2 linked regions of the Homo sapiens genome follow. The protein of the gene in region 2 purifies or fractionates together with the protein of the main gene of each other region. This does not show direct contact. Each region holds a gene or a part of one and is shown on either strand. Other genes may lie near its edges.

The links.
Region 1: the proteins of TNFAIP8L1 (region 2) and SBF1 purify together in Homo sapiens (affinity purification with mass spectrometry, with the first as the bait; one large-scale study listed by BioGRID). This does not show direct contact.

The regions. Positions count from the first base shown.
Region 1 is NC_000022.11:50,461,505-50,465,099, forward strand, and holds part of SBF1 (myotubularin-related protein 5), read right to left. Parts: coding exon 3,497-3,595; intron 3,414-3,496; coding exon 3,315-3,413; intron 3,235-3,314; coding exon 3,030-3,234; intron 2,938-3,029; coding exon 2,825-2,937; intron 1,929-2,824; coding exon 1,779-1,928; intron 1,435-1,778; coding exon 1,366-1,434; intron 1,214-1,365; coding exon 1,055-1,213; intron 970-1,054; coding exon 701-969; intron 616-700; coding exon 443-615; intron 366-442; coding exon 292-365; intron 215-291; coding exon 19-214; intron 1-18. UniProt on the Homo sapiens protein: Acts as an adapter for the phosphatase MTMR2 to regulate MTMR2 catalytic activity and subcellular location. Promotes the exchange of GDP to GTP, converting inactive GDP-bound Rab proteins into their active GTP-bound form.
Region 2 is NC_000019.10:4,645,217-4,650,534, reverse strand, and holds part of TNFAIP8L1 (tumor necrosis factor alpha-induced protein 8-like protein 1), read right to left. Parts: intron 1-5,318. UniProt on the Homo sapiens protein: Acts as a negative regulator of mTOR activity.

The DNA.
Region 1 (3,595 bases), on a different chromosome or scaffold from region 2:
GAGAGTCTGCAGGCTCACCCAGGGGGTCCGTGGGCATCCCCGTGAAGATGACCCGGTACGTGGTGAGGAAGACGGCGCCCTCAGCTGGGAGCAATGCTGGTCCCCCAGCACTGCCCCCCGCGCCCTCCTCACGCCCATCCGGCAGCAGGTAGACGCGCAGGCCGTCCAGCACACACTCCTCACCCGGCAGCAGGCGCGGCCGCAGCAGCTTGGGCTGCTCGAAAACAAGAGCAGGAGCTCAGGATGCAGCCCGGGCCTTGGGCCCCCGCAGCCCCAACGGCCCCCGCAAACCTTCTGGATGGGCGGCAGCCTCCGGCTCTCCCGCTGCACGGCCTCCAGGGTCTCGATGTGCATCTGGACAATGTCTGGGGGAAGACAGTTCTCACACTTTGTGCCCAGCCCCACCCATCCAAGGGGGAATCACCAGCCCAAACCCCCGTACCTGGCACCATGACATGCAGCCCCTTGAGGTGGTCGCTGGTGACCCCACTCTCCGTGCAGACCTTGTCCACAAAGCGGTTGATGAAGCGGACCACAGCCCCAGCTACGTCGCAGGTCTCTGCATCCTCGAAGCCGCTCTCCGTGTCATAGCTCTCGGCCACACTGCCAGCCATGCTGGGCCAGAGAAGAAACTGTGGGCATGGGCCCTGCCCACCACGGCCCCGCCTCCACTGGGCCCAACCCCCAGTCCCTGCCTCACCTGTTGGTGACCAGGCTGTTGCTGGCGCTCTCCAGGTCGCCCAGCCCGGCACGCTCCCGAAGTAGGCGGCTCTTGCTGCTGTCCAGGGGCAGGAGGAGGTAGCTCATGCGGTTGGCATAGTGGATGGCCTGGCTGAACACCGTGCTCTCCTCCTTCTGCACCAGCTCCTGCTGCTTCTCACGACTCAGAGTTGGCCACAAGCGCCGCTGCTCAGAAGCCACGTCTAGGGCAGAGCGCTCGTCCTCCTGGGAAGGTGCCTCCCCAACCTCCTGCCACGGCACCACACGCATGAGCCGGGGCCACGCTGCCCCAGCCCCTAGCCCCCAGCCCCCAGCCCAGGGAGTCCCTGCGCACCTGGGCGGGGGCCAGGTCCTCCGTGGGCTCCAGGTAGAGGGCCCGGATGTGAGTCTGCACATCCCCATAGAACATGGCCTCCCAGAACTGTGGCGTGCTCCACACCACGTGCTCCTGCACACAGCTGTATGCAAACTGCGTCACCCCCGGGCTCAGCTTCTGCAGGAGCCAGGGGAGAAGGTCAGCTGGATGCAGCCAGGAAGGGCGGCTGGGAAGGAGACCTCGGCCACCAGGAAGGGGGGCTGGGAAGGAGACCTCAGCCACCAGGAAGGGGGGGCTGGGAAGGAGACCTCAGCCATGCCAGCACTCACCCGGCAGAAGGCTGTGACCAGAGGCAGCAGAGCCGCCGCAATGCCATGCTCGTCCAGAGAAGTGCAGTCCTGCAGGTAGAGCGAGAGACCGTCAGGACCTCTCCCCTCCCAGGCAGCACTCACCTCCCACCATGCCCCCACCACCCCATAACCACCACAGACCAGCACCTGACACCCTTGGCTCCAGCTCCCCAAGGCTGCCTCAGAGGCTCAATATCAGGAGACCCCAGGCCCCAGCACCTGCCCCCAACAATGGTTCTCTCCACCCTGTTCCCTGCAGACCGAGGACCCCTGCCCACTGGCACAGGAGTCTCTTGCACCGTCTCTCCACTCTCACTCACAGACCAGGGTCTGCCCGCCTGTTCCCGCTCATGCGCCATGAGCCATGTCACTAGCAGGATAAGAGGCCTCACCTGCAGGCAGCAGTTCATCATACGGACGACAAAGTCAAACTGCTGGTGGTCCAGGACCGCACGGTTCTGCTGCACATGCAGGTGCAGCTCCTGGGCGAGGCAGCGGCGGGCAGCTCGCCCCTTCAGGGCCCTCAACACGGCTGGGAGCAGCTGGGGGTGGGGAAAGGAGACACGGGCTGAGGGCACAGAGAAGACCCACTCGGGGCCCTGGCAGGGAGGGCAGCAGGTGTCCAGGAGACCCAAATGCCTTTCAGGTGGGGTGTGCCAGACTCTGGGGCTTTGCCGACCAATAAAGACTAAAACCTCCAGTGGGCCCGACAACTCCACAAGTACAAGTTCACCAGGCCAGACACAAGGACGCAGATGCTGCACCTGTGAGCTGGCAGGGAGGTGCGCTCCGGAGGGAGGCCTTGCGGGCCGGGCCCCCTTGCTCACAGGCTCACAGCTGCCTGGCTGGCTCAGTGACTCGCCTGGCACAGGCCCGGCCACAGAAAGCCTTGGAGTTTGCGTTCTATTGCTACAACGTTCATCACAAAACTGGCCGCCCCAAAGGGACACCATACAGCCAATGAAAAACAAGAGTCTCCAACTGGCCATGATGAAAGACCCCAGAGGCGTTAAGTGAGCACCACAGAGAGCAAAACAGCAGGAGCAAAAAGCTCTGTTTCCATAAGATGCAAGGAACAGGTCACGTATGGAGGGAGCAAGCTCTGTTTTCCATCAAGTACAAAGAACAGGTCGTGTATGGGCCTACCCAATTTAAGGGGAAGGACACAGACGAAACATAATAGTGAAACCTTCTGATTTCTAAAAATGGAAGTACATCTCCCTGGCTGGGTCTCCCGCGCAGGCCCGACCCACCCCTCACTGAGGTCAAGAGAGGAGACCTGGAGCCCACCTACCCTCCGGCCAGCCCAGCCACCTCTAGCTGTCTGTTAGGCAGAGGAGGCCCTGGGGCAGCGTCAGCACTCACAAGGGTGAAGTGCAGCCTGGGTCTCCTCTGAAACCCGCTGCCCTGGCCCGGCTGGAGCCTGCACAGCCCTCACCTTCTTGGCCTCAAGCATTTTCCCCTCAAACACGTAGGAGATGCAGTTGCGCACAACCTCCAGCCGCCGGGCGCTGTTGACATGCAGCCCACTGCACCGCTCCAGTATGGCAGCTGCGGGGACAGAATACACACACTCGGACCCCTGACCCCACGCCCATCCTGGGCCACGCTCGGGGCCTGCCTTCCCCTCCCTCATTACGCACTCATGGGGGGCCCTGAGGGCACGGTGGTCCTCCTCTCGGCCTTCACAGCTGGGGGTGCACCCTGCATCTTGGCTGCAGCCTGGTCCACGATCCACTGCACGGTGCCCTCATCCAGCCGGGGGAAGGGTCGGGGCACCCGTCGCAGGTGGCTGCTCTCACCGGGCCTCTGTACCTTGTGCATCGCCACGGCTGGGTACGGGTTCTCCTGTGGGGAGACGGCAGGTGTGGGGCAGGGGCCCAGGGATCAAGGCGGTACGACGCCCTCCCGTCCTGCTACCCTCGTACGTTCTTGTAGAGCTGCTCTGCCAGTTCCTGGACGTGACGCAGGACACGCTGGGGGTGGTTCTCATCCGCCCGCATCCTTGCCACCTCGTGGGCCACCAGCTAGCGGGGTAAGCAGGAGGTTAGGTAAGCCATGGTCAGGCGGAGCCAGGGCAGGGGGCTGGGAGGGCAGGGTGGAGGTGCACCTCATCGAACAGGTCCGTAGGGCGGTATGGGACCCCACGCTCTGACACAAAGCCAGCAAAGGCCATGCCCTCCAGCACCTTCATCAGGAAATCGTCCTC
Region 2 (5,318 bases):
GCCCTGGAGCTTCCCCCTCCACCCACCTCCTTCCTGCAGCTCCGGAATTCTTCCTAAATCTCAGAGTAGGGCATAGCCCTTACCTGCTGAGAACAAGCTGACAGCTCCTCAAAGCTCCCAGGACCAAGCTCCACACCTCACTTGGAGCCCTGACTCTTCCCTGTGGACCTCAATACCCTAAGGCCCCATCTCCTCCCTGGTGAACTCCTATACACCCCCCAAAGCCTGGCCCCCAAGCCCCTGCCTCTTCCCTGGTAAACTATACATCCCCATCACTTTGGCCCCCAAGTCTCTGCCTCCTCTGAGCCGCAGGTTCCCCAGGCATCCCCATTGCTCCTCTGCTCCCCAGCTCTGCACCCCAACTGGTCTGCCTCACCCCAGGCCACAGGGGAGGTCATGGGCCCAATTCCTTATCCACGGTGTCCCTGCAGACTCCAGAAACATCTGCTGAATGAAGAGGGGAGTGTGGAAGAACTGGCGGAGGAGGGAGGGCCTGAGACCCGCCCCCGGTCTCTCTCACTGCCCCAGACCCTGCTCAGCCTCCACTCCCACCCCAGCGCCAGGCTGCCAGCCTTGGAATGCCATGTGGGCACCCACCTACCCCAGGAGCCCCCACAAAGCCGGTCTTTGTGTGAGTTCAGACTCCGGGAGAAGTTCCAAACCCTCGGCCGCCCTCTGAGGTCAGGGCAGGCACGGGAATTGCTGGATGGGCCGCCCCTGCCCTCCGACCTCGGTCACCAGACCCTGGCTCTGCACAGGCCTAGGCCAGAAGAGGGGTGCTGTTGACTCAGTGCCACGTGGCAGACCCTGAGTCAGCGATGTGTGCCCACTTTGTCATCGCCACCATGTACTAGGCAGGTTGCCTGTTTTGCAGAAGAGACCACAAAGGCTCAGAGAGGCTGAGCCACTTCCCCAAGACCACACAGCAATACAGTAACCACTGGCTCTCAACGCCCTTGAACCCCAACTCCCTGTGCCTTCCCCACCTAACGCCCTCAACTGGCCGTGAGTCTTAGAGGGCAACCCTGATATTTAGGGCCTGCTCCCAGCTCTGGCCTCTGCAGCAAGCAACTTAACAATGTGCCTCAGTTTCCCCATCTGAAATATGGGGAAGATCGGAACGAACTTTGTCCTGGGGCAGAAGCTTGTGACCAAACCGCAATGCCCCCTAAGCTGTGAGCTTCCTCTGGACGAGAGGCTGCAACCACTGCCTGGAATTCCGCCCTTCCGTGCCCACCTCAGCTCTGTGAACTTGCAGACCTAGTTCTATCTCAGTGAGATTCCCTGTGCAAAAAAAAAAAAGCTGGCCGGGCGCGGTGGCTCACACCTGTAATCCCAGCACTTTCGGAAGCCAAGGCGGGAGGATCACTTGAGGTCAGGAGTTCGAGTCCAGCCTGGGCAACATGGTGAAACCCCGTCTCTACTAAAAATACAAAAATTAGCTGGGCATGGTGGTGGGCGCCTGTAGTCCCAGCTACTTTGGGGGCTGAGACAGGAGAATCGCTCGAACCCAGGAGGCGTAGGTTGCAGTCAGCTGAGATCACACCACTGGACTCCAGCCTGGGCAACAAGAGCAAAACTCAATCTCAAAAAAAAAAAAAAAAAAAAAAGGATGTTTGCAGATTCTAAGAGGAAACTCCCGAACCCCTGGGTCCAGCCTCCCCAGTTCATAGATGAATAAACCGAGGGGACTCGAAGAGGAAAAGGCCTTTCTCTGCATCTGGGGATGAGGCCCCTGGACCCCATCGGCCCTGGAGCCCACATCTTTCTGCCCATCTCGGGAGCTCCGTGACCCCAGGCAGGGCTGTGCCCCTCGCTGGGCCTTGACTTTCCCATCTGTGAGTCCTGAGGCTGAAGAAGTTGATTCCGGACGGGAGTCAGGCCTGTTTACAGATTCAGGAAGGGCCTGGGCTCCCAAGAGCAACCCCCGCCCCCTGCAAGGCCAACAGGAAGAGGGATGGGGGGCAAGCAGCTGTGGCCTCCCTTCCTGGCCCCCACACTCCTAAGACGGCCGGGGCAGCCCCGGGACCTGCTGACACCTGGGGCGGCCCAGCTGCCTGGCCTTCCCCTTCCTCCTCCCTGACCCATTGTTCTGCCAGAAACGCTCCCATCCAGGCAGCCAGACAGGAGGATGACTGCTCTCCCAGGGGAACAGGCCGAGGACCAAAATAAACCTGGGTCTTCCTTCCTGCAGGAGGCGGTGTAGCGGCCGCATCAGCCCTTACAGGGCAGGGGCCTTCCTAGGGACTGCCTGGGGCCTAGGGGCATCGCCCTCCAAATGCCAGGGCACCCTGCCATCGTCACAAACACACACAGCCTGCTACAGCTTCTGGGATTCAGGTGTTAACACCCATTCAGTGGCTCAACGAGCATTTATGGAGCACCAGCTGTCCTGGGGCAGAAGCTTGTAACCAAACCCCAGTGTCCTGAGCCAGCGACCTGTGCCTATTCGTCATTCCCACCTGGTACTGGCCAGGTTGCCTGCTTTGCAGAAGAGACCACAGAGGCACTGGGGATACAGCAGGCATCAAAACAGATCCCATCCCTGCCTTGCTAAGGCCCTGGCTTTCTAGACCCCAAGCTGCCTCCTCATTACAAAATCATCTGGGCCAGGCAAGGTGGCTCACACCTGTAATCCCAACACTTTAAGAGGCCAAGGCAGGAGGATTGCTTGAACTGGGAAGTTCAAGACCAGCCTGGGCAACATAGCGAGATCCCATCTCTACAAAAAAAAATTTTTTTTAATTAGCCAGGCATGGTGGCACGGGTCTGTGGTCCCAGGTACTCGGGAGGCTGAGAGGGGGAGAATCGCTTGAGCCCACGAGGTCAAGGCTGCAGTGAGCTATGATCACACCACTGCACTCCAGCCTGAGCAACAGAGCAAAACCCTGTCTCAAAAGGAAAAAAAAAAAAAAAAAAAAAAAAGCCAGGTGCACTGACTCACACCTGTAATCCCAGCACTTTGGGAAGCTGAGGTGGGCAGATCACCTGAGGTGAAGAGTTGAGATCAGCCTGGCCAACATGGTGAAACCTTATCTCTACTAAAAATACAAAAAAAATTAGCTGGGCATGGTGGCAGGCACCTGTAATCCCAGCTACTCTGGAGGCTGAGGCAGGAGGATCATTTGAACCCGGGAGGTGGAGGTTGCAGTGACAGTGAGCCGAGGTCTCCAGCCTGGGTGATAGAGCGAGACTCCGTCACAAAAAACAAAAAACAAAACAAAAAAACCCAGTCCGACGGCTCCTCAGACATCTAAACACACAGTTACCATAGGACCCAGCAATTCCACTTTGGGGGATCTACCCAAGAGAAACACAAGCATACACCACGCAAACACTTGTTTTGCACGTCACAGTTTACAGCGGCGTGACCCAGGGTAGCCTGCAAGTGGAAGCAACTCAAATGTCCGTATGTCCATTAATGGGTGAATGAATAAACAAAATGAGATCGGTCCAAACAATGGAATGTTCTCTAGCCATAAAAGGAACGAGGCTCACACACAAGCTCCAGCGTGGATGCACCTTGAGGACATCATTCCCAGTGACAGAAGCCAGACACACAAGGCCACAAAGTGTGTGATCCCACTTCTATGAAATGTTCAGGAAGGGCCGGGCACCGGCTCACGCCTGCAATCCCAGCACTTTGGGAGGCCGAGGCGGGCGGATCACAAGGTCAGGAGATCGAGACCATCCTGGCTAACACGGTGAAACCCCGTCTCTACTAAAAATACAAAAAATTAGCGGGGCGCGGTGGCGGGCACCTGTAATCCTGGCTACTCGGGAGGCTGAGGCAGGAGAATGGCGTGAACCCGGGAGGCGGAGCTTGCAGTGAGCCAAGATCACGTCACTGTACTCCAGCCTGGGTGACAGAGCGAGACTCCATCTCAAAAAAAAAAAAATGTTCAGGAGAGGCCTGTCCACAAGGGCAGAAAGCGGACTCGCGGGTGCTGGAAACTGGAAGAGGGGAAAATGGAAAGCGATTGCTAAATTGGGAACCAGGTTTTTTTGGGGTGAGTGGTAATGGAATGTTCTGGAATTAGAGATTCCAGAAATTTATGATGGTCACATAACTTTCTGGTTATAAATTGTACACTTTAAAACAATGATTGGCCAGGTGCGGTGGCTCATAACTGTAATCCCAGCAGTTTGGGAGGCAGAGGGAGGAGGATCAATTGAGGCCAGGAGTTCAAGACTAGCCTGGCCAACATAGTGAGACCCGGACTCAACTGAAAAAAAAAAAAAAAGTCGGCCGGGCGTGGTGGCGAGCACCTGTAATTCCAGCTACTCGGGAGACTGAGGCAGGAGAACCGCTTGAACCTGGGAGGCGGAGGTTGCAGGGAGTCGAGATTGTTCCACTGCACTCCAGCCTGGGTGCAAAAACTGTTCCCCTGCTGGAAGGAGGAGGTGCCGGTAACCAATAAATAGAAACAAACAAGTTAATTTCAGGAAGAGAGATATGGGCCACGGGGGTGGGGGATGAAGTTCAGGGTAACCAGGAGGGCCTCTCTAGGGAGAGGCTGGGCCAGTTGAACTGGGCCTGCAATGACAGGGTCTGCGGGAAGATGCTCCAGGCAAAGGGCACAGCCTGTGCAAAGGCCCTGGGGCAGGGCTGTGTCACGCTTGTTACAGGAACAGCCAGGAGGCCTCAGCCCTGTCCACAGCCTCTGTCCAGGTCCGTCCACAGCTCTGAGGTCTCCCTGCTGTGACCCTTGGCAGGCCCCATGCATGGGGGCAGCTTTCCCATCTGCAAAATGGGTGACCAGGCACCAACTCCCTGGCTCCCTTGACTCTTCCCCTGCTCCCTATATTCCTTTTTTTTTTTTTTTTTGAGACGGATCCTCCTGCCTCAGCCTCCCAAAGTGCTGGGACTACAGGTGTGAGCTACCACCCCTGGCTTAAATGTACTTTATTTAACTATAAGTTTATGTATGTATGTATGTTTGTATGTATTTTGAGATGGAGTCTTGCTCTGTCTCCCAGGCTGGAGTGCAGTGGCCAAATCTCAGCTCACTGCAACCTCTGCCTCCCGGATTCAAGCGATTCTCCTGCCTCAGCCTCAGCCTCCCAAGTAGCTAGGACTACAGGTGCATGCCACCACACCCAGCTGGTGTATTTGTATTTGTACAAAAATACAAATTTGTGTATTTTTAGTAGAGACGGGGTTTGGCCATGTCGGCCAGGCTGGTCTCTAACTCCCGGCCTCAAGTGATCTACTCGCCTCGGCCTCCCAAACTGCTGGGATTACAGGTGGGAGCCACCACGCCCAGCCTTAACTATAAGTTTATATTCTCCCACGTTAAATAATGGCTGCGTTTAAC